Linked DNA regions of Homo sapiens. The protein of the gene in region 3 purifies or fractionates together with the protein of the main gene of each other region. This does not show direct contact. Each region holds a gene or a part of one and is shown on either strand. Other genes may lie near its edges.

Region 1 (3,500 bases), on a different chromosome or scaffold from region 3:
CAGATCTCCTGAGGAGCATAACATGAGGCCCTCATATTTTAAGGAAACATGAAAAGGAGAAACAACCAGCTCCCCCAAAGCCCCTGCCTTCCTCTGCTCTGAAATTCCCATCCTCTCTCCTTTCCCCCAATAAAGGTCCAAGAGGGAACAGGAGGTGACGGAGCTGAAGAAGACTCTGGAGGAGGAGACTCGCATCCACGAGGCGGCAGTGCAGGAGCTGAGGCAGCGCCACGGCCAGGCCCTGGGGGAGCTGGCGGAGCAGCTGGAGCAGGCCCGGAGGGTGGGTTGGGGCAGGGGGACAGGGCAGGGGGGCCACGGGGAGGGCAGGGCAGGACGCGGGGTTGGAGGAGGTACCGCTGGCTGGTTCTAGGCTAGCTCATCTCCCTGGGCCCCTTTCCTCACGCATTCATGTGCATCTTTCATTCAGCAAGCATTAATGGGGTGTGGACTATGTTCCAGGAGCATTGCTGGGGAACCAGCCATGAACCCAACAACCAGCACTGCCTTCCCTTGTGGAGCTTTCCTTTTAGTGAGAGAGGCAGAGGGTAAACAATATAAACACTTTCAGTTTATATTGGGGTGATAAGTGCTATGGGGCCATAATGAACAGGAAAAAGGGATCAGAATTCTAAGGCGGGTGAGTTTTTAAGTAGAGAGGCTGTGGAGGTATTCTGCGAGAAGGTGACATCAGGGTAAAAAACTGAGGGAGTGGCCGGGCATGGTGGCTCTTGCCTGTAACTTTGGGAGGCTGAGGCAGGCAGATCACTTGAGGCCAGGAGTTCGAGACCAGCCTGGGCAACATGGTGAAACCCCATCTCTACTAAAAATACAAAAACTAGCTGGGCGTGGTGGCACACACGCCTATAGTCCCAGCTACTTGAGAGGCTGAGGCAGGAGAATCACTTGAACCCAAGAAGCAGAGGTTGAAGTGAGTCAAGATTGTACCATTCCACTCCAGCCTGGGTGACAGAGCAAGACTCTGTCTCAAAAAACAAACAAACAAACAAAAATGGGCCAGACGTGGTGGCTCATGGCTGTAATCCCAGCACTGTGGGAGGCTGAGGTGGGTGGATCACCTGAGGTCAGGAGTTCAAGACCAGCCTGGCCAACATGGCAAAATCCCATCTCTACTAAAAACACAAAAAATTAGCCGGGCGTGGTGGTGGGCGCCTGTAATCCTAGCTACTTGGGAGGCTGAGACAGGAGAATCACTTGAACCTGGGAGGCGGAGGTTGCAGTGAGCAGAGATCGTGCCTTTGCACTCCAGCTTGGGCAACAAGACTGAAGCACTGTCTCAAAAAAAAAAAAAAAATTGGGAGTGAGGGGTGAGCTATTTGTTCACTGGGAGAAGTGTGTTCCAGGCAGAGGGAACAGCCAGTGCAAAGGCCCTGAGATGGGAGTGTGCCTGGCCTGGTCCAGGAAAGGCCTCATAGATCTTTGCTCATCTCCTTCCCACACCAGGGCAAAGGTGCATGGGAGAAGACCCGGCTGGCCCTGGAGGCCGAGGTGTCCGAGCTGCGGGCAGAACTGAGCAGCCTGCAGACTGCACGTCAGGAGGGTGAGCAGCGGAGGCGCCGCCTGGAGTTACAGCTGCAGGAGGTGCAGGGCCGGGCTGGTGATGGGGAGAGGGCACGAGCGGAGGCTGCTGAGAAGCTGCAGCGAGCCCAGGTAAGTGGGGTGGGCAGGGCAGAGGTTTCTGCTGTGTGACCTTGGTGACATGCCTGCCCTCTCTGGGCTTCTATTTGGTCCATATCAAACCAATTGTCTCGTTTGGCTCTTCCAACATAATCATGTACAAGTCTGGGCACAGTGGCTCATGTCTGTAATTCTAGCACTTGGGAGGCCAAGGCAGGAGGATTGCTTGAGCCCAGGAGTTCGAGACCAGCCTGGGCAACATAGTGAGACCCCATCTTCAGAAAAAAAAAAATTTTAATTAGCCAGGTATGCTGGCATGTGCCTGTAGTCCCAGCTACTCAGGGGACTGAGGAAGGAGGATCCCTTGAGCCTGGGAGGTCGAGGCTGCAATGAGCTGTGATTGTGCCACTGCACTCTAGCCTGGGCAACAAAGTGAGATCCTGTCTCAAAATAATAATAATAATACCCAGTACTTTGGGAGGCCGAGGCGGGCAGATCACCTGAAGTCAGAAGTTCGAGACCGGCCTCACCAACATGGAGAAACCCTGTCTCTACTAAAAAAAAAAAAAAAAAAACACAAAATTAGCCGGGCGTGATGGCGCATGCCTGTAATCCCAGCTACTCGAGAGGCTGAGGCAGGAGAATCACTTGAACCCGGGAGGCAGAGGTTGTGATGAGCTGAGACCGCGCCATTGCGTTCCAGCCTGGGCAGCGAGAGTGAAACTCCATCTCCAATAATAATAATAATAATTCACTCATTTAAGATGTGCAATTCAATGGATTTTGGTATATTCACAGAGTGGTATGGCCATCACCATAATCTAATTTTGGACCATTTTCATTATCCCAAAAAGAAAATCCTATACCCTTTAGCTATCATCCCCCACTTCTCCCCCACCCCACCCAGGGAACCACTAATCTCCTTTCTGTCTTTACTGATCTCCCATTCTGGAGATCTTATATAAATGGAATCCTACTATATATGGGTGGCCTTTGTGGCTGCCTTCTTTTACTTAACATAACGGTTTCAAGATTCATCTGTGTTGCAGCTCGTAGCATAATTCCTTTTTTATTTTTTAATTTTTAAAACACCAGCTGGGTGCAGTGGCTCATGCCTGTAATCCCAGCACTTTGGCAGCGGAGGCGGGTGGGTCACCTGAGGTCAGGAGTTCAAGACCAGCTGCCTGACCAACATGGTGAAACTTCGTCTCTACTAAAAATACAAAATTAGCCGGGTGTGGTGGCGCATGCCTGTAATCCTAGCTACTTGGGAGGCTAAGGCAGGAGAATCACTTGCACCTGGGAGGCGGAGGTTGCAGTGAGCCGAGATTGCACCATTGCGCTCTAGCCTGGGCAACAAGAGTGAAACTCTGTCTCAAAAAAACCCCAAAAAACAACAGCACGCAATAGATCCATATACCTTTCTATTGCCGAATAATGCCCGTTGTATGGATATTCCACATTTGTTTATCCATTCGTTTATTGATGGACATTGGGGCTGTTCCCGCCTCTTGGCGATGGTGAGTAATGCCACTGAGAACATTCCGGTACGAGTTTCTGCATAGACCTATGCGTTCATTTCTTTTGGGTATGCACCTAGGAGCGGGATTGTTGGGTCATGTGGGAACCCTATGTTTAAGCATCTGTGGATCTGCCAGACTGTTTTCCACGGCAGCTGTAACATTTCACATTCCTGCCAGTGTGGTAGAGAGTTGAGGCAGATGGGGTCACTGGGTGGAAGCCACGATTGGAGGGCTTCATTCCCGTCCCTTCCCTGCAGGCTGAACTGGAGAATGTGTCTGGGGCGCTGAACGAGGCTGAGTCCAAAACCATCCGTCTTAGCAAGGAGCTGAGCAGCACAGAAG
Region 2 (3,500 bases), on a different chromosome or scaffold from region 3:
CAACCCTTGACAAATTATTTAACTGACTTGAAGCTTTACTTTCATCATCTATAAAATGAGGACGAAAATAATCTTTTCCCACAGGTGTAAAAGTGCCTGTGCACAGTAACAGTACCTGTGAGCTGCTCTTATTTTTTATTATTACGGTAATAGTAACAATTATAGCTGTTTGACTCTGGGGGACTCCAGAGCTCTCGTGGGCTTGGGCAGGAAAGCAAGAAGAGACTAAAACACTTGTCTGTGCTGAGAAAGGTGAAGAATGAATGTCTCACCAGGGTAGGAAAGATGTACTTCTGGTCCTTTTCCTGGAGAAACACCAGTACATCTGTCATCAGCAGCACTAGCACATCTGGAAGGGGATGAAGGTGGGAGAACAGTCAGCACTAGACGGTCTGAGCAGCTGCTTCCCTCTTTCCCAAGGACCAGGCTTATCCCATCAGGTTAGAGCTCCCAGTTTCCCTCTTCCTGGCCTCTCTTCCCTCTGGCTGCTTGCACTTTTTCAGACCTCTCACACCTCACCCATTCTATTTTTTTTTTTTTTTTTTGATACAGAGTTTTCATCTTGTTGTTCAGGCTGGAGTGCAATGGTGCAATCTTGGCTCACTGCAACCTCCGCCTCCCGGGTTCAAGCGATTCTCCTACCTCAGCCTCCCAAGGAGCTGGGACTACTACAGGCGTGTGCCACCATGCCCGGCTAATTTTGTATTTTTAGTAGAGACGGGGTTTCACCATGTTGGTCAGGCTGGTCTCAAACTCCTGACCTCAGGTTTATCCACCAGTTTCGGCCTCCCAAAGTGCTGGGATTACAGATATGAGCCACCGCGCCTGGTCACACATTCTTACAGCTTAAAAACAGTGTGGGTGGGGGGTGGGGGGCGGGCAGGGTGCAGAAAGATTCATGTGCTATCAGACAAAACAGCGTTGTGGGCTAGCAGGAACCACAGGGATCACTCAGTGTCTACAGAAAACCCTTTCTACCTGACTGATTCAGGTTTCTTAACCTAGGGCCTACAGACCCCCTGGGATGTCAGGCTTCAGTGGCTCTGTAAACCTTCTGAAGGTGTGTAAATAGTTTTACATATTAACATAACTCGTGTATTTTTTTGGGTGACAGGGTCCAAGATTTTTGTGAGATTCATAAGGTTCCCCAGAGCAAGAGGGACCATACTTTTATTTTTTATTTATTTTTAATTTAATTTGATTCTATTATTATTTTTTTGAGACGGAGTCTCACTCTGTCGCCTAGGCTGGAGTGCAGTGGTGCCATCTTGGCTCACTGCAACTTCTGTCTCCCAGGAAAAAGCGATTCTCCTGCCTCAGCCTCCTGAGCAGCTGGGATTAAGGAGCACGCCACAACACCTGGCTAATTTTTTGCATTTTTGTAGAGACGGGGTTTCACCACGTTGGCCAGGCTGGTCTCTAACTCCTGACCTCAAGTAATCTGCCTGCCTTGGCCTGCCGAAGTGCTGGGATTACAGGCATCAGCCACTGCGCCTGGCCTATTTTTTATTTTTTGGGACCAAGTATCGCTCTGTCGCCCTGGCTGGAGGGCAGTGGTGTGATCTCTGCTCACTGTGACCTCTGCCTCCTGAGTTCAAGCGATTCTCATGCCTCAGCCTCCCAAGTAGCTGTGGCTACAGGTGAATGCTGCCATGCCTGGCTAATTTTTGTATTTTTAGTAGAGATGGGGTTTCACCATCTTGGCCAGGCTGGTCTCGAATTCCGGACCTCAGGCGATCTGCCTGCCTGATTCAGCCTCCCAAAGTGCTGAGATTATAGGGATGAGCCACCGTGCCCAGCCTGGACCACATTTTTTAGCCTTTAAATTCCATTTCTAATATCTAACTAAGGAAGACCTTTACGGCTATCTGACCTAAATTCTCCCTGTCCTGGCATATTCCCACTTCTAATTTTGAGCTTGGTAGGGAGGGAGAAAGTTTCCTTCCTCTCGCAGAGGACTGAAAGACCATCCCTCACCCACCCATCTCCTTCAACCCCAGCAGGCCCCTGCTTCAATTTCTTTCTCTGCTTCACACTCCAAGCTCTCAGATCCTATGGGGTCAGCACTCCAAGACTGAGGGAGGAAACAAAGATCAATTCCATAAAACTTGGATGTCACAATCAAGAAAACAGAGGGCGAGGCATAGTGGCTCACATTTACAATCCCAGCACTTTGGGAGGCTGAGGCAGGAGAATCACTTGAGGCCAGGAGTCTGAGCAAGACTAGCCTAGGCAACATAGCAAGATCTTATCTCTACAAAAAATTTAAAAATGTGCTGGGTGTGGTGGTGCAGGTCTGTAGTCCCAGTTACTCAGGAGTCTAAGGCAGAAGGATCACTTGAGCCCAGGAGTTTGAGTTACAGTGAGCTATGACTGCACCACTGCACCCCAGCCTGAGCAGCAAAGCGAGACCCTGTTTCTAAAAAAAAAAAAAAAGAGAGAGAAAACATACACTCCTCCTTTGCCCTTGGGGATTTTACTAAACTGTGGGCACACAGAAGGGGAGGGCTTTTGCTAAATGCTTCAGAAATAACACTCTCCAGCCTTGCTATTTTTAATCCCCCATGGTTTATATTCTTAGCTGCTGCGTGGGAGAGATGGGAAGGAGAGAAAGGGATAAAGGAAAGAGGCTGGTGAAGACTGACAATATCCAAACCCAGGGAGCAGGGATTTCATGACACAGGTACAGAGGCTCAGGCAGGCTTTGGCCTCAGGTATCACAGTTTCCTATTGTCCCTCACATCTCATCCCCAAAGCCAAGGCCTGCTATTCTCTTGCTTTGATTTAGGTGAGAAAGACTTTGCCAGTGCAGACAAATTCTGGAAAGAGAGCCTGGGAAAGTGTGCCCTGGCCCCTGATCTGCTCCCTCTGCCCTGCTGTCTCTTCTCCTCCCTGCCTGTCCTTCACCGGCTCAGTCCCCTCCTCTGGGCCTCCTCTGGCTGCGCTCCCCAAAGCTCTTGCTTACTCCCATCCCTGGTAGCTGGGATTCCAGCTGGGGGAATCAACTGATCCTGTCCTCCAGTCTGAGAGCTTCTTTGTCTTCCTCAGTAAAACTAGTAGCTCTCTAGGCATGCAAGGACCAAAGAAATTATAAAATACTGATAGGGAAGGCCCTGTATGGTCCATAAAGTTAACTGCAGAATTCAGGCTTTTCTGCCACAGAGATCCTATTTTTCTCTCCCACTGAGTCTCACTGTTGTATGGGCTGCATAAAGGGAGGTTGATTCTTTTTTTTTTTTTTTTTTGAGATGGAGTCTTGCTGTGTCACCCAGGCTAGAGTGCAGTGGTGCAATCTGGGCTCACTGCAAGCTCCGCCTCCTGGGTTCACGCCATTCTCCTGCCTCAGCCTCCTGAGTAGCTGGGACTATAGGCGCCCACCACCACGCCCGGCGAATTTTTTGTATTTTCAGTAGAGACAGGGTTTCACTGTGTTAGCCAGGATGGTCTCAATCTCCTGACCTCGTGATCCGCCCGCCTCGGCCTCCCTAAGTGCTGGGATT
Region 3 (3,500 bases):
CAGCCTTGAATTTGAAACCTGGGTCGGCCACTTATTGTGATACTCTAGGCAAGTCATTTAATGCTTTTAGATACCAGTTTCCTTACTGCAAAATAAGATACTAGTAGCAATGTCAAAGTGTTAATGTGAGATTTAAATAAGATAATGTATAAAATGTTTAGCACAGCTGGCATACAGAAAGGGCATAACAAATGTTAGCATTATTATCAACACTGTATTAGTTCATTCAGCCTACACAACAGGTTCTAGCTGCTACATGGCTACACATACCCATGCAACTGTTTATAGTATTCTTCTTCATCACCTTATATGTTCTAAGAACCTTGGGTAGTGTATGTATTTTACTGAGATTAAAGACAGAATGAGGGTGAATGGGTCCAAGTGCAAGCATTCTCCATCTTCCCACTCCACTCCCTAATGGAACTAGATGTTCACTCTGTTATTGAAAGCAGTGATTGTGGAGTCCTAGTAAGGGAAAAGGAGTCAGGCGGGTGGGAAAAGGGTACAGCAAAAAGAAAAAGCAGATAAGGTATAAGTCTGCCTTTCTTCATGGTCCAAGACACACAGCCCTCTTGCACAAATAACTCACAAGCTTTCTGCACTCAACTTATCACCAGACTCTCAGCTGACAGAAAAATGCAAGTTAGCTCACTGCAACCTTGGCCTTATCAGTACTGCACATAGCCCTCTCTGCAGCACACAGCAGAAGCATCATCCTGTAACATGCCCAGCAAGCCATTGTCTCCTGGCAGTCAGCTTCTCTCTTGCTGATCTGCCCGTTGCACCCTTGCAACCAACCTACTTTCATACTTTCTCTAATAAATCTGCCCTTCTTTACCTACAATTGCCTTGGTAATTCCTTTACCACCTGCAACGCCAGCCTCAGCTAGTGTGACCTATGACAGTGAGGATGAACACAGGAAAACACACTACAGGCACAGTTTTGCTTTTCAGCACTTGGTTGACAGGAGGCTGATAAACTGCCTAATTGTGCTCTGCTTACTTTAGATGAACACTGCTCCCTCTTAAAACTTCATTTGAGATCACATAATTATGAATTTATATCAAATTTGGTCCAACCCAAACAAAATGTGTTATCTCCACTGATCACATATCCAAATGCCTTTTTATCTGTACATAGCATATTTATGCCAGTTTTGTTGTAGATGGAGTCACCTGGGCGCAGTGGCTCACGTCTGTAATTCCAGCACTTTAGGAGGCCAGGATTACACTTCAGGAGGCCGAGGCAGGTGAATCACTTGAGGTCAGGAGCTCGAGACCAGCCTGGACAACATGGTGAAACCCCATCTCTACTAATACAAAAATTAGCTGGGCGTGGTGGTACATGCCTGTAATCCCAGCTACTAGGGAGGCTGAGGCAGGAGAATCGCTTGAACCCAGGGGGCAGAGGTGGATTGCAGTGAGCTGAGATCGAGCCACTGCATTCCAGCCTGGGCAACAGAGGGCGACTGCATCTCAAAAAAAAAAAAAAAAAGTTAAAAAAGTAGATGGAGTCATAAAACCTCTACCAACTACCTGCCTCTTTAAAGACATGATTTAAGTAAAAGCTACAGTTCTATTTTTATGGAATTTTTATTTAAAAATATGGTATCTAGGCCTACGGCTACAGGCTTACATGTGTAATCTTAGCACTTTGGGAGGCCAAGGCAGCAGGATCACTTGAGCTCAGGAGTTTGAGAGATCAGCCTGGACAACATAATGAGAATCTATCACTATTTTAAATCACTATTTAAGAAAAAGAGCTGGGCGCAGTGGTGTGTGCCTGTAGTCCCAGCTACTCAAGAGGCTGAGGCAGGAAGATCCCTTGAGCCCAGAAGTTCTGGACTGTAGTATCCTATGCCGATTGGGTGTCTGCACTAAATTAGGCATCAACATGGTGACCTCCAGGGAGTGAGGGACCACCAGGTTGCCTAATGAGAGAAGTGGCCCAGGTCAGAAACAGAGCAGGTCAAAACTCCCGTGCTTATCAGTAGTAGGATCACATCTGTGAATAGCCACTGCACTCCAGCCTGAGCAACACAGTAAATCCCCCGTCTTTAAAAAAAAAAAAAAGTAAGCATGGAATCCACTTCTCTGCTAACTTCTAAAAACTAGTCTTAGTTCTCTTTGCCAGAGGAAGCAGAATCTAATTTTAAAATTTAAAAGTACTTCTATGTGGCTTCACATAACATAATTTGTCTATTGCTAATTCTTCTGAGCTTGATGTGAGAATGTAGTAGATACTAAAAGGAGTATGGTAAAGGTAAACAATACTTCATCTTTAAAAACTAATTTTAATGAGGTTTATCCAAATATAGTTTTTTTTTGTTTTGTTTTGCTTTTGAGATGGAGTCCCGCTTTGTCACCCAGGCTGCAGTGCAATGGCGCAATCTTGGCTCACTGCAACCTCCCCGGTTCAAGCAATTCTCCTGCCTCAGCTTCCCAAGTAGCTGAGACTACAGGCATGTGCCACCATGCCCGGCTAATCCAAGTATAGTTTTAAAACATTATTTTGACTTCTACACTATGTACATACTTTACATATTCAAAAATAAAATCCTAAGTAAAAACTGAAACCTATGAACCATATCAAATTGGTAGCATAACCAGAGAAAAGTATTTCAAGTGACTTTTGAACACAGTACTCATTATACATTCTTCATGCAATATAGTCTAAATACGAAAATAAATGCAAAGAAATCTTAAACTACATGAAGCTTATTGGTATTAGCAATACCAGCACTATAATTTTAAAATGATTTTATGTATACAGTGGGAGAAAGCAAATAAGTTTATTATTTTTTTTGGAGACAGGGTCTCACTCTGTCATCCAGGCTGAAGTGCAGTGGGGTATGAACATGGCTCACTGCAGCCTCAACCTCCTGGGCTCAAGTGATCCACCTGCTTCAGCCTCCTGAGCAGCTGGGAACACAGGCACACACCACCACGCCTGGCTAATTTTTTTATTTTTTATAGAGATGGGGTCTCATCATGTTGCCCAGGCTGGCCTTGAACTCCTGGGCTCAAGCAATCCTTCCACCTCGGCCTTTCAACGTCCTGGGATTACAGGCATGAGCCACTGTGCTTGGCCAGTTTATTAACTGTATTAAAAACCAAGATTTTCATTTAAGACAAGAGACAAATATAGAGTCAAGGAAGAAAAAGTCTGCTTGTTAAATAGGAATTGGAATATCACTCTGAACTCATGATTAAACAAGCAAAAACCTTTTTCTTAGTTCTCTCCTCTCAAAGCACCTAGAAGCAATGATACTGCAGCAGCAACGAATATGCCAAACATCCAGAACTTGGTTTCTATATACGATTTCTCATTAAAAAGAACCAAGACTCCCTGGATAAACAGCTCTTTCCAGAGGTGAGCAAAGAAAGTATAAGATAAACCCTGGAGTAACTCGTGTCAGAAAGCACTCCAAGATTAATGGGGAGCAGGGGTGTCAAGACACACAATAGTCAGCTTGAAATGGTTCCTACTGACCAAATCT
Region 4 (2,975 bases), on a different chromosome or scaffold from region 3:
TGGCCTTTCCCTCCTCTAAGTGGCTCTGCAGAAGGTGCTCGTGGTACTACCAGAGACTGACCTTCCCAGCTGGTGGTCTAGCTCCTCCCTTGTAGCCCTTTTGTGCTGAAGGGAGCTGACTTGAGTTCCTGGCAGAGCTGGCCCCTTCCCCCAGATCTTGATGAAGAAAAACAAGGGGAGGGAGTGTGCCACGTCTGGGCAGCAGTGGCCTTTTCTGACTTCTCTGCTGAGCCCCAAGCAAAGGAAAGGGAGCCAGAGGCCCCACTCTCCCAGCATTGACTCACAGAGCTGTGAGACGAAGCCCTTGTGCAGAAACAGGGATGGCAGGAGTTCAGAACAAAAAATGCAGTGGGGCAGGGACAAAGGGCCAGGGCCAGTGTGTTGGAGGGGAGCAGGTGAGCAGGGCCCCATCCTGGGGCAGGAACACCTTACTGCTGAGAGCTTGCAAGAGACCAAGGCCCAGCTGGGAAAAGGGAAGAGATGAACGGCAGAGGCTCAAGTTGAGAAATCCAGATTTACTTGTGGCCTTTCTCCAGGGTGCCAGAGAAGACCAGCAGGCATGGGCGGATGGGGCAGCTGTGCTGTGGGTGAGTGAGTGGGTGTAATAATACCGGGTAACATTTGCGACGTACCAGGCGTTGGGCCAAGGAGCTTGCACACGCTGCCTTGGTCCTCACAGCAGCTGATGAGGCAGGTATCACTATCTCCATGTTACAGGTAAGAAAGCCAGCTGAAAGGCAGCAGGAACTGGCACAGGGTCACCCGGCTGGGAAGTAGAGCAGGGATGTGCCCCAGGCAGTCTGATGTAGAAGCTGCCTCTAGTCTATGAATCTTTGCCTCTGATGGATCAGAAGAGGGAGTCAGGGGAGTCCTTGGAGCTCCAAACACTGCTTTGAAAGCCACCCCTCAAAGAGCTGGAGAGTTGGAGAGAGAGGCTTTGGCAAGAGCTCAATAGAAACACTGTTTATTCAAATGACAGGCAGGAAGCGGTGGCAGCAGCAGGGGGGAAAGGGCAGCCAGGCAGGGGCTGGGCAGTGCTTCCCTGTGTCCCCTGCAATCCTGCTTGGACAGCCACCCGGCTGTTGGCATCAGGGTCAGAAATACTTTCCCTCCTCTCCCTCCTGCCCCAAACTGAATAAATAGCATCCCTCTCCCCACGAGAGCTAGGGGAGACTCATGTGCTGAGTTTGGTGCCCCAGTCACAGCCCAGAGTCCGGTGAGGGCAGAAGTTCAAAATGGCTTGTAGGGAGTAGAATACAAAACTGTTCTACTCATTCTCACCTTCCTCTTCCTCCTCCCTGCCACACTCCCCTCCCAGCCTGGTCCCAGGACAGGTGGTCGGTGAGGGTCTGGAGCGGGAGAATTGTTGCCTAGCATACACTGAGCTCAAGTTCACAAGGCCATCCAGCCTGTCACCCATCCGGGTTGACCACCAAAGAGAACGTCTCACTTCACGCCACTTTATGGACATAAAAGGAGGGGCAGGGAGGGAGGCAGTGGGCAGCCAGGCCTTTCCCAGCCTCAGAGGTAACCAGAGTCCGAGGAGCAGGCCCCCTACCGATCCATCTCGTCCAGGAGTGGGGTGGCATCGCCAGCAATGGACATGGGGGTGCTTTCGATCATGGGGCTGGGGGAGGGCCGAGGTGTCAGCCGCTGCTTCTGTTTCCGCCGTTCTGCCTCCTTTTCCTGCAGCCACTGCTCCGCCATTTTTCCCCAGTCGATGGCTGCATGGCTGTTGGACCTGGGAGGGGAAGAAAAGTTGAGATTGGGACTTTGCTAGAAGGAAGTCTTCCCACCAATCACTGTACCCTTGCAGAAAGGAACCTCATACCTATGGGCAGCAGCCCCTCTACTGGGATAAGGCAGATACAGCAGCAGCTGGCTGCCATACTGCCCTCTTCCGTCTTCACCCAGAAACTAGTGTTCCTGGCATATCATGTGGTCAGGGCCCTCAGAGGATCCAGAGCACCTGCCTCTGCTAAGCCTTTCGGCCTCTTGACAACACCTGCCCCTACCACTGACCTGCACTGTGCCACCATCCAGATACTTACTTTGGCTGCTGCTGCCGTTGCCGGGAGCTGGAAGAGGGCTGGGGCTGGGCCTGGGCCGACTGTGGGGTGGTGCTGGCCTGGAGCTGGTGGTACTGAGGGGTGGTGATGGGCTGGCTTGGGGTCGTGTAGGAGTAGCTAGGGGTCATTAGTGGTGTGGCCACTGGCTGCTGGGCTGGCGTTGGGAATACCTGGAGAGGCATGAACAGTTAAATAGGGATGGGTGTGGGGCTTGTTTGGCCTTGCTGTGAATTCTGGGTAAGCGCAAGGGTGGGCTCAGCAAAGCTTTCCAGATGATCTTCCACTGAGTATGTGCTTCTGACCAGCAGTGGGAAGCCTGCAGGTCAGCACCGAGCACACAGTGGTGCCCACTGGTCCTGACCATGTCAACTTTCTGGTGGCTTGCGGGTTCCAAAGATCCCAAAGGCCCGTGGAAAGGTTATGCCCTCTCTTACCCTCTTCCCCTTCAAATGGGCCTAAGGACAAGAAATATCTGTTGGAGACAGTTACCAAGGCCGTGGCAGCCCCATCTGTGCATGTGAAGCCCCTTGTGGGCAATGCGAGAGGGCAGTCTATGGGCCCCACCCTGCACAGGGAGCTTCCTCCCCAAGCCACATACGTGGTAAGCACTGCTGCCGCCTCCACTGCCGCCATAGCCGTACTGGCTGGAGGCCCACTGGGCTGGGGTGGCATTAGGGTTCTGTCCTTGGCCTGTCACCGCAGCAATGGCACTGAACATCTGTGAAGTCATGTTCTGAGGCAGGGCATTCACAGCCCGTGTCAGATCTGTAAGCACACAGAGGTGGGGAGGGGCATGTTAGAGGTGAAAGTCCCTTTAGCTCCATCCTTCCCACCTCCAGTCCCAGGCTCAAGCTCCTCACCTGCAAGGTTGATGTTGGCTGGGGTAGCATTGATAGAGGCAGGTGT
Region 5 (3,500 bases), on a different chromosome or scaffold from region 3:
GTTTTGGAGATGGGGGTCTTTCTATGTTGCCCAGGCTGCTTCCTTTTTTTGAGATGGAGTCCCGCTCTGTCACCCAGGCTGGAGTGCAGTGGCACAATCTCAGCTCACTGCAACCTCCACCTCCCGGGTTCAAGCGATTCTCCTACCTCGGCCTCTCGAATAGCTGGGATTACAGGCGCACGCCACCATGCCCAGCTAACTTTTGTATTTTTAGTAGAGACAGGGTCTCACCATATTGGCAAGCTGGTCTCAAACTCCTGACCTCAAATGGTCCACCCACCTCAGCCTCCCAAAGTGCCCGGCCCCCCTCTTCTTTTTTTTGTAGACAAGGTCTCACTCTGTCACCTTGCCTGGAATTCACCAGCGTGATCATGGCTCACTGCATACAGCCTCAACCTCCCGGGTTCAAGTGATCCTCCCCCAACAGCTTACTGAATATTCTCTGTGCTGATGGGATCTATGTTGCCCAGGCTACTTTTTAAATTTGTTTTGAGACAGGGTCTTGCTCTGTTGCCCAGGCTGGTGTGGAGTGGTATGATCATGACTCACTCCAGCCTTAATCTCCCTGGCTCAAGTGATCCTCCCACCTCAGCCTCCTGAGTAGCTGGGAATACAGGCACGTGCCATTAAACCTGGCTAGCTTTTGCATTTTTAGTAGAGACAGGGTTTTGCCCAGGTTGGTCTCGAACTCCTGGGATCCACTGATCTTCCCACATCGGCTTCCCAAAGTGTTGGAATTACAGACATGAGTCACAGTCCCAGGCCCAGGCTGCTTCCTAACTTCCTAGTCTGGGCTACAGTGACCACCAACTTTGCAATTATATCATGTATTTTACTGCCACTTCAATTCTAATGCTTCTAATTTCAGCTTCTATTTTCTTTAATGTGAAGAGAAATACAGATGTACGTAAATGACCAAAACCCCTGCAGACTGTGAAAGGCCCTGACTGCCTGTGTGTGGGGTTCAACTCTTCATTCTAAAGGGAGAGGAAGACGATCCATCAAAAACAGTCATCCAGGCCGGGCACGGTGGCTCATGCCTGTATCCCAGGACTCTGGGAGGTCAAGCTGAGCGAATCACTTGAGGTCAGGAGTTCCAGACCAGCCTGGCCAACATGGTGAAACCCCATCTCTACTAAAACTACAAAAATTAGCCGGGAGTGCTGGCGGGCACCTGTAATTACAGCTACTCAGGAGGCAGAGGCAGGAGAATCGCTTGAACCCAAGAGGCGGAGGCTGCATAGTGGCAGAGGCTGCAGTGAGCTGAGATGGCGCCACTGCACTCCAGCCTCAGTGACAGAGCGAGACTCTGTCTCAAAAAAAAAAAAAAAAAAAAAAAAAGAAACAGTCATCAAGAGGGTCCACCCCACTTCAAATGATCACTGTGTTCTAATGAGGAAACTGCTCATGAATCCACTTAGTGAAACTGAATTCTTAACAGTTCTAGCAGAAAATTTCAAATACACACAAAGGTAACTTAGAGGGTAGTTCCTAATGGTTAACCTGTAACCACATAACCTTTATCATCCTCTCTCTGTATGTATATGTACGTGTGTATATATGTATGACTATGTACGTATGCATATACACATATTTCTATTTCTGATCCATTTGAGTAAATTGCAGACATGATGTTCTTTTACCCCAAAATATGTCCATGTGTATTTCCAAAGAACAAAGACACTCTCTTACATAACCACAGCAGAATTACCCAAATCAGGAAATTAACATTGGTACAAACTACTCACATTTTCCCCGTTAAATGTGAGAACAGGCCGGGCACAGTGGCTCACGTCTGTAATCCCAGCACTTTGGGAGGCTGAGGCGGGTGGATCAGGAGGTCAGCAGATAGAGACCATCCTGGCTAATAAAGTGAAACCCCGTCTCCACTAAAAATAAAAAAATTAGCCATGCATGGTGGCACACGCCTGTAGTCCCAGCTACTCGGGAGGCTGAGGCAGGAGAATCGCTTGAACCTGGGAGGTGGAGGTTGCAGCGAGCCAAGGTTGCGCCACTGCACTCCAGCCTGGGCGACAGAATGAGACTCCGTCTCAAAGAAAAAAAAAAAAGGATATTTTTTCCTACACGCTTACGGTTAAGAGTTTGCTTGGTGCCTGTAATCCTGGCACTCTGAGAGGCCAAGACAGGAGAATTGCTTGGGCTGAGGAGCTTAAGACCAGCCAGGGCAACATAGTGAGACCCTGTCTCTACACAAAATTTAAAAATTAGCTGGGTGTGGTAGTGCACTGATAGTCCCGAATACTAGGGATGCTGGGGCAGGAGGGTGGCTTGAATCCAGGAGCTCAAGCCTGCCCTGAACCATGATTGTGCCACTGTACTCCAGTCTGGGTAACAGAGTGAGACCCTGTCTCCAAAAAAAAAAGTTTGCTTGGCATTATAAAGGAAATAAAAGGAGTGCACACAGAAAGTTTGCTTGGCACACCTGTCACGACACCTGTAAGTGGTGCTGGTCTCATGAGTAGAACAGATCTGTGAATGACAATTCTAATTTGTTGGGTCAGAATTTTCTCATTCATGTCTCCTCTTTCTCTATAGCCAATGTCAGCTGATGACCAGTTTAAGAAATAACATTGGCCGGGCGCGGTGGCTCATGCCTGTAATCCCAGCACTTTGGGAGGCCGAGGCGGGCAGATCCTGAGGTCAGGAGATCGAAAGCATCCTGGCTAACACGGTGAAACCCCGTCTCTACTAAAAATACAAAAAAAATTAGCCGGGCGTGGTTCGGGCACCTATAATCCCAGCTACTAGGGAGGCTGAGGCAGGAGAATGGCGGGAACCCGGGAGGCAGAGCTTGCAGTGAGCCGAGATTGGAGATCGCACCACTGCACCCCAGCCTGGATGACAGAGCGAGACTCTGTCTCGAAAAAAAAAAAAAAAAAAAAAGAAAAGAAAAGAAATAACATCAACTAGAATAGTGCAAACTGCCTGCAAATTCCTTCCACTGTGGCCAACTTCCCAAGTGTGAGGAGGTCTGTGAGGAGCACCAAGACCAGCCACTTTGGCCTCCATCATTCTCACAAATACCTTTCCAGTCAGTGGGGAGGAAATAATCCCATTGCCGATGTTCTTCTTGGAGTGATCTGGAATCACACTCGGGCGGCCGGGAAGGGAGGAGGAGCCTGTCCTGGAGATGAGGCCCTCGGGACTTTTCTTAGAGCCTGGAATTCTGTCAAAGGAAGAAAACAAGTAGGGAATTCTCTTACTAGGCATTACAGAAACGGAGAGAATTAGAATAAGTTAAGGCGGGGCAAAGGCAGAAACACGGCCTGGGGAAACCCTGCCAGTCCTAACCACTTCTCTGGAATCTCCCTTTGCCTTTCAACCACAGTGAGGCTGAGAGATCAGCCCCAAGTATCTGCTGAATATAAGCAGAGCAAGGGCAAATTAGAGTCAGAATTCCTCCAAGATCAGAGTTCAATGCACCAGAAAGCAAGAACCTCAAACACCTCAGCCACACTCTGCAGAGACGTACAAAGCAG
Region 6 (3,500 bases), on a different chromosome or scaffold from region 3:
CGGGAACAGTGGCTCACACCTATAATCCCAGCACTTTGGGACGCTGAAGTGGGTGAATCACTTGAGGTCAGGAGTTCAAGGCCAGCCTGGCCAACATGGTGAAACTCCGTCTCTATTAAAAATATAAAAATTAGCAGGCGTGGTGTCAGGTATCTGTAGTTCCAGCTACTCAGGAGGCTGAGGCAGGAGAATCGCTTGAACCCAGGAGGCAGAAGTTGCAGTGATCCGAGATCACACCACTGCACTCCGACCTGAGGGACAGAGCTAGACTCTGTCTCAAAAAATTAAAAAATAGTAGTAATAATAGTAATATGGAAAATAAGGAAAGTTTGATAAGTAGATATGTTATATGCAATATACTGTCCTTTCTCTACTCATATTCCCTGACAAAGATAAGGAAAAACAACAAAGTAGACATCTTGAAGCAGAGTCTTCCAGCTCAAAAGGAACTAAGGTGGTCCATTTGTGGTAGACAGGGATGTTAATCTTTCAGCCAACAAGCCTGTATCCACCCAAGACATATGTCTATGAAATTAAAAAGTTAATATACACCAACTTAAATCACATTCATTTTATACGAACCTCAGTTTCAACTGCTATTTCATACTTGGATTTCTTGCCTGGCATAGTCCGAATCAGATTCAACAGGCCATCTTCATCAATAATTTTTGTCCCCAAGGCTGCGGCCTGTTGATTAAAAATGTAAACCATCAAAACTGCATCCTGCATCCTACCATTCCCTTCTCTTACAAAAAAAAAAATTCTAGGGCCTATTAGTAGGTGAAAAACCACATTCGTAAATTAAGATAACACTGGAATTAAAAAAGAAAAACAAAAAATAGCACATTCATTGAAAAAGTAACATTGAAAAGAAAGAAAATAACAGATACATTCCCTAAGAGTAGCAGGTTGGCATGGGAAGTGGTCCATTTCTACTTTTGTGGACTGCTTTACCTTTCCTCCCCTAGAAAGGGGCAATGGCCACTAGGGCCTAAGACCAGCTCTTCATACCTTCTCCCATATTTAATGCATATGGCAGACATTTCCCCCACCTTCTTCCCTGCTGATGGAACTCCAATGTGTCCTTCTTCAAGTGATGAATGATGACTGGTCCAAGGCAACCAGAAACGTCTTGGTTCTTCCCAACCTCCCATACAGCTCTGAGTGGCCAGGTGACAGCTCTGGCCAATGAGCCTTATGTGAAATTCTATAAGACATGTTTCTGGGAAAACTCTCGTCAGGCCAGTCACAGCTCTTATGACATACTTGCCACTGTTCCCTTTTCCTGCCTTGAATAAGAATTTAAATGCCTAGAGCTGCAACTACCTTGCAACCACAAGGCAACATGCATGAGGACAAAAGTTAACACAATAAGGACAGATGGAGGAACCACATCGTTGAGATGCCGAACTATCCCAGCAATACCTCCAGAATTCTTGTGAGAAAAATTAGCAGCTGTTTAATCCACGGTTAATCAGATATTCTGCTGTTTGGAGCTAAACACAATCCTACCCAACAGGCCGCTGATTCTTTTTCTAAAAACACCAATTTAAAAAAACCTAAGATGGTGTATACAGTGGCATATATAGGAATACTTCGGACTGGAAGAAAAAGAAAACTGCATTTGTTTCTATCTTCAAAAATAAAAAAAGACTTAAACTTAAATACACTAAAAAAAAGTCAAGTAAACAGGAACTATGCCTTCCATTGGAAAACCAAAATCCTGGTGTCAGAGCCAATAACACTTCTGTGGAGAAGAAATAATGTAGGCAAGAAATTACTTTTCTATTTCTTTCCTTCATTTAACTCTGAGTAAAGGGCAAATCACATCAAGAGTGTGCCAAGGCAGGCAGGAGGTGTCATGGTGTTGAGAACAAAGCAGTACCCACCTTATCACTCTTGGACTGTCCACTATCACGACCCATGACAAGATAATTTGTTTTCTTGCTGACATTTCCTGTTACTTTTCCCCCATAACGTTCAATTAGAGACTTGGCCTCATCTCGTTCAATAGACTCCAGCACGCCTGTGATTACAAATATAAGGCCTTCCAAGCAATTTTCAGCTCCCTAAAAACCAAAATGTTCAAGCAGAGAGGAAATTACATGGTAGCTTTCCAAAGAAACATTTGGCATCAAAACTGCAGGAAGTTGATTTTTCTCATTTCACATCATAAATAACCTTGGCATGGAAAGTTTGCTGGAAATTTACAGCAAATAAGCACCACCTGAAATTAGATCCTAAGAAATTTTGATATGGCTAACGTTTAATAAACTTACAAAACAAGCAGTGAAAAACATACATCCAACACTGTTAGCAAAGCTATTAAAATTACCCATTCATACTATTTTCCATTATGCCCTCTTCATATCTAAACTACTAGTTAACTTGCATAACTATAAATAAACAACCAAATGCAATCCATCTGTAGAAACTCTTGCTATTCAGGAAACTGCTTGTTCTTAAGAACTTTCCCAACAAGAATTTAATAGAAGCAGGTATACTCCTATCATTTTGATGTTTCTGTTAATGTTTCGAAACAATGTACTTTAAAATCAGAATCACTTCTTATCATTTTCAAATACTTCTGATGCTTTTCACCACATTAGTGATCAGAAATGAGGTCTAATTCCCCAATCCCTGCCCGCAAGAGCTAAGTAGGATCTTAACTGTAAGTTGAAGGGAGTTTTGCCCGAACTCATGGATTGTACAAGAACAAACTGCTGCTGGGTTGGATGGTCTGCCAATGGATTGTGGTGTGGCATATCTGAAGGCTACTGAATGCAACTTATAATGCTTAATAAAAAATTTTTACTGTTTTATGGGAAAAAAGGGAAAAAAGGCAACTCTTGCTATTGTTAAAAAGGGAAAGTTTTGATTCTAAAAAGCTAAGCAAGTGTGAGCTCGTGCCTTCCTCTCTGCTCATTACTCTAGGATAGTAAATCTAGCAATCTTCTAGTAACTTAAAGGCAAGATCGTATTATCTCTGGATTGGAAAGATAACTCTCATAATGTATAATATAAGAGATACTTGCCAAAGAGAGCTGGATGGAAAAGACATTAAATCTTAATTGGAACTATGTTGAGTTATATATTTTTGCAATGGTTCAATAAAATTATACAACCAAACAAAATGAAAATTATACATGACATTCCAAGTTACTTATTACTCTTTTAATAGAGAATTGAGATTAATAAACTTAAAATGGGCTTGAAAAGCAGCAGCCAACCAAAATTCAAAGACTGCCTCCATGTAAGTTCAATCCTTCACCATTCAGATGAAGAATCTTTCTCGGAAGACAAAAAGAAACAGCTATGAAGGTGCTTGGAAAGAAAAGGTTTGACTAACAATATCTCAGGGTCCCTTGAAGCCTTTATGGGTTCTTGGATTGAAATGATCTACTGTAACACTACAGGAACTTAACTACTTCTGAACAAACTCAAAACAACCCTGGAAAAATTGCACATGCAAGCCCCTATATCCCATATCCCAAACATCT
Region 7 (3,500 bases), on a different chromosome or scaffold from region 3:
ACCTTTTAATACCATCGCCTAGGGGGTTAGTTTTTAACATATGACTCTGGGGGAGGAGAACATACATTCAGACCATAGCAATCCCCAAATACTTTAGTGTGTATTTTCTACAAAGAAGGACATTTTCCTGTACTAGCAGTATAACCATCAGAAGTAGAAAATTAACATTGATTCATTATTACCATCCAATCCTTAGATCCCACTGGAGTTTCGCTTGTTGTTCTGATAATATTTTTCTAACAAAAGAATCCAGTCCATGGTTATATGTCACATTTAGTTGTCATGTCTTTTTAATCTTCATTAGTACAGAACAGTTTCTCAGTCTTTCTTTGATTTTCATGACCTTGACACTTTTGAAGATTACAGATGAATTATTTTGTAGAATTTCCTCAATTTGGATTTTTCTGATGCTTCCTCATTATGAGATTCAGGCTATACATCTATGGTGGGAATTCAGGGAAGTGATATATCCTATCAGGTGACACATGATTTCAGTTTGTCCCAGAACTGATGATATTCACTTTAATCCCTTGATTGAGGTGGTGTCTCCCAGGATTTTCCTCTGTAAAAGTTTTTTTCCCAGTTTATAATTAATATGTTTTTTGGGCTGGGTGTGATGGCTCACGCCTGTAATCCCAGCACTTTGGGACGTCAAGGTTGGCAGATCACTTGAACCCAGGAGTTGAAGACTAGCCTAGGCAACATGGTAAAACCCCATCTCTACAAAAAAATACAAAAGTTAGCCAGGTGTGGTGGCATGTGCCTGTAGTTCCAGCTACTTGGGAGGCTGAGGTGGGAGGATTGATTGAGCCCGAAAGGTCGAGATTGCAGTGAGCAGTGAGCTGAGATTGCACTGCACTCCAGCCTGGGTGACAGAGTGAGACCCTGTCTCAAAAATAAATAAAAATAGAATTAATATGTTTATGTGAGATAGTACTATGAAACTGTAAATATCTCATTCTTTATCTTACTTTGATTTATTCATTATTTTTATTTGTATGGAATCATTGTTTCCTATTTTATTTAATAGGTTATAATCCATTACTATCATTACTTATTTACATGATCATCTTGTTCCCAGTTTGACCAGGGAGAGCCTCTTCAGTGTGGCTTCTGTGACTTCTTTTGTCTTTTGATATATCCCTTTCATTCTTTGAACATTTCCTTGCTTTTGGTACAAGATCACCTAAGCTCATCTTGAACATTCCATGCCCTACTCTTGGAACCAGCCATTTCTCCCAGAATGCCTAGCTCCTTTTAGTGGATCTGGGCACTAATGTGCTCTTTGCTTTTGAAATGTCATTGTTCCCAGATCCTCTTTTTTCCCTCTCCATACATGTAACTGGAGTTCCAGAAGGCAAAGAGGGAAAGAATCCATAGACTCCCATAGACCCCATAGATTTTGAGCACTCCGTTGTGATTTTTTTCTGCCAGTCTTCTTCTTTTTGTATTTCAGTTCAGTAATTTCTTTTTTTGTTGTTGTTTTGTTTTGTTGAGTAGGGTCTCACTGTGTCACCCAGGCTGGAGTGCAGTGGTACAATCATTGCAGGCTCATTGCAGCCTCAAACTCCTGGGCTCAAGCGATCCTCCTGCCCCAGCCTCCCAAGTAACTGGGACTACAGGCATATACCACTATGCCTGGCTAATTTTTTTTAATTTTTTGTAGAGAAGAGATCTTGCTGTGATGCCCAGGCTGGTCTCAAACTCCTGGCCTCAAGCGATCTCCTGCCTCAGCCTTTCAAAGCGCTAGGGTTACAGGCATGAGTCACTGTGCCTGGCTCAGTTCAGTAATTTTTATTGGTCTATCTTCAGGTTCACTGATTCTGTCCTTGGATGTGCCCGGTCTGATGATAAACCTGTTGAAGGAACTTTTAATCTGACTTTTTTTTTTTCCTGGCATTTGTATTTGACTTTTTTTTTTTTTTTTTTTTTTTTGAGACAGAGTTTTGCTCTTGTTGCCCAGGCTGGAGTGCAACGGTGCAATCTTGGCTCACCACAACCTCCACCTCCTGGGATCAAGCGATTCTCCTGCCTCAGCCTCCCGAATAACTGGGATTAAAGGCATGTGGCACCAAGCAGCTAATTTTGTATTTTTAGTAGAGATGGGGTTTCTCCATGTTGGTCAGGCTGGTCTCAAACTCCCGACCCCAGGTGATCTGCCCACCTTGGCCTCCCAGAGTGCTGGCCTTTACAGGCCTGAGCCACTGCACCCAGCCTGTATTTGACTTTTTATTGTTTCCATCTCTGCTGAAATTTTCTATCTATTCATAGATGTTGTCTATCTTTCTCAACTAGATCCTTTAACATAAACATATTAGTCCAGCCTGGGCAATATAGCAAGATCCTGTGTATAAAAAAATATAAATAAATAACATAAACATATTAATCATAGTTATTTTATATCTCCTGTCTGATCAAACATCTGGCTCATCTGAGAGCCTGCCTCTGTTGTTTACTTATTTCCTGACAGTGGGTTTTTTTTTTTACTTTTTGTATGTCCTGACATTTTTAATTGAGTGGTAGTATATTAGTTTTCGTTATAGTCATGAATTGGGCTGAATTTAGAGTTCATTGTATATCAACAAAGGCTTCAAATTCCTCCAGCAGTGGACTGCTATAACCTTGTGATTTGAGGTTACCAAAGGACATTCCTCAGTGCTTCTGCTTTACCCTCAGCCTTCAGCTACTTCTGCACATGTGTGCCACAGAAGTGTCCTCTTTTCAAGTACCTGCCTCATCTGCCGCACTAGACTGCTGCTCTTTGTTTCCTGGGGCTAAGCACACGGTGAGGGCAAGTGGGGTTCTTGGATCTCTGGTGCAGTCTCAGTCTTAGGCAGACCTCTGTGAGGGGCAGGGTTTTCTCAATATTCCTGCCTCTCCTATCTGTAGCAGCCAAACTTTGCCTTGAATCTGTGGTGGGTCTTGGGCAAGACATATTTTCCTGCCCTTCCTGGAGAGCTGGAGAGGTAGCAGATCCTTACTTTGTATCAGTGAACTGTCCTGGGCCCAAGAGGTTTTCCTGTGCCTCTCCCAGAGGCAGAGTTTTTGCTTCTGCCTTCCTCCAGACACAGTGGATCTTTGCCTAGTCCCTAATGGCAGGCCCAATTCCTGCTCTTCCTACAGCTTGAGGCTTTGGTTCCTATGAGAGAAGAGTGTAGGGAAGTGCCCAGGTTTCATGTCTGTTTCTGAGCACAGCCAATCAGCTCCCTGCCCCAGTCTTTGTTTTGAGCACTGGGTGGAAGCCTCTGGAAAACAGCCTGCATGTGAATGGGAAATCTACTTGTGTCTGGAGCTTCAAAAAATTCCACATTGACACACTTTCCCACACCCAGCCTTTCGTAATTGTTCAAAAGTTTAGCTGATATTTTCTTATTCTTATCTGTGGCAGCCATTTCTTCCCCCCATGCACTGCCAAAGGTGAAACAGTCTTCCCTCTCTCTTTAAAAGGATTTGTCACTCTTTGGAGGGCAGTTCACTTCTGTGCTTTATGACCTCAAATC

Evidence for each region.
Region 1: the proteins of ZBTB44 (region 3) and MYH14 purify together in Homo sapiens (affinity purification with mass spectrometry, with the first as the bait; one large-scale study listed by BioGRID). This does not show direct contact.
Region 2: the proteins of ZBTB44 (region 3) and ARHGEF2 purify together in Homo sapiens (affinity purification with mass spectrometry; one large-scale study listed by BioGRID and IntAct). This does not show direct contact.
Region 4: the proteins of ZBTB44 (region 3) and SUPT6H purify together in Homo sapiens (affinity purification with mass spectrometry; one large-scale study listed by BioGRID and IntAct). This does not show direct contact.
Region 5: the proteins of ZBTB44 (region 3) and USP36 purify together in Homo sapiens (affinity purification with mass spectrometry; one large-scale study listed by BioGRID and IntAct). This does not show direct contact.
Region 6: the proteins of ZBTB44 (region 3) and RFC1 purify together in Homo sapiens (affinity purification with mass spectrometry; one large-scale study listed by BioGRID and IntAct). This does not show direct contact.
Region 7: the proteins of ZBTB44 (region 3) and AHCYL2 purify together in Homo sapiens (affinity purification with mass spectrometry, with the first as the bait; one large-scale study listed by BioGRID). This does not show direct contact.

The regions. Positions count from the first base shown.
Region 1 is NC_000019.10:50,276,622-50,280,121, forward strand, and holds part of MYH14 (myosin-14), read left to right. Parts: intron 1-135; coding exon 136-280; intron 281-1,461; coding exon 1,462-1,668; intron 1,669-3,415; coding exon 3,416-3,500. UniProt on the Homo sapiens protein: Cellular myosin that appears to play a role in cytokinesis, cell shape, and specialized functions such as secretion and capping.
Region 2 is NC_000001.11:155,958,048-155,961,547, forward strand, and holds part of ARHGEF2 (rho guanine nucleotide exchange factor 2), read right to left. Parts: intron 350-3,500; coding exon 273-349; intron 1-272. UniProt on the Homo sapiens protein: Activates Rho-GTPases by promoting the exchange of GDP for GTP.
Region 3 is NC_000011.10:130,308,418-130,311,917, forward strand, and holds part of ZBTB44 (zinc finger and BTB domain-containing protein 44), read right to left. Parts: intron 2,058-3,500; exon of another isoform or gene 1,763-2,057; intron 1-1,762. UniProt on the Homo sapiens protein: May be involved in transcriptional regulation.
Region 4 is NC_000017.11:28,700,205-28,703,179, reverse strand, and holds the end of SUPT6H (transcription elongation factor SPT6), read right to left. Parts: coding exon 2,930-2,975; intron 2,835-2,929; coding exon 2,668-2,834; intron 2,240-2,667; coding exon 2,052-2,239; intron 1,742-2,051; coding exon 1,555-1,741; 3' UTR 501-1,554; downstream 1-500.
Region 5 is NC_000017.11:78,809,815-78,813,314, forward strand, and holds part of USP36 (ubiquitin carboxyl-terminal hydrolase 36), read right to left. Parts: intron 3,188-3,500; coding exon 3,046-3,187; intron 1-3,045. UniProt on the Homo sapiens protein: Deubiquitinase essential for the regulation of nucleolar structure and function. Required for cell and organism viability.
Region 6 is NC_000004.12:39,310,863-39,314,362, forward strand, and holds part of RFC1 (replication factor C subunit 1), read right to left. Parts: intron 2,070-3,500; coding exon 1,890-2,069; intron 688-1,889; coding exon 583-687; intron 1-582. UniProt on the Homo sapiens protein: Subunit of the replication factor C (RFC) complex which acts during elongation of primed DNA templates by DNA polymerases delta and epsilon, and is necessary for ATP-dependent loading of proliferating cell nuclear antigen (PCNA) onto primed DNA.
Region 7 is NC_000007.14:129,392,530-129,396,029, forward strand, and holds part of AHCYL2 (adenosylhomocysteinase 3), read left to right. Parts: intron 1-3,500. UniProt on the Homo sapiens protein: May regulate the electrogenic sodium/bicarbonate cotransporter SLC4A4 activity and Mg(2+)-sensitivity. On the contrary of its homolog AHCYL1, does not regulate ITPR1 sensitivity to inositol 1,4,5-trisphosphate.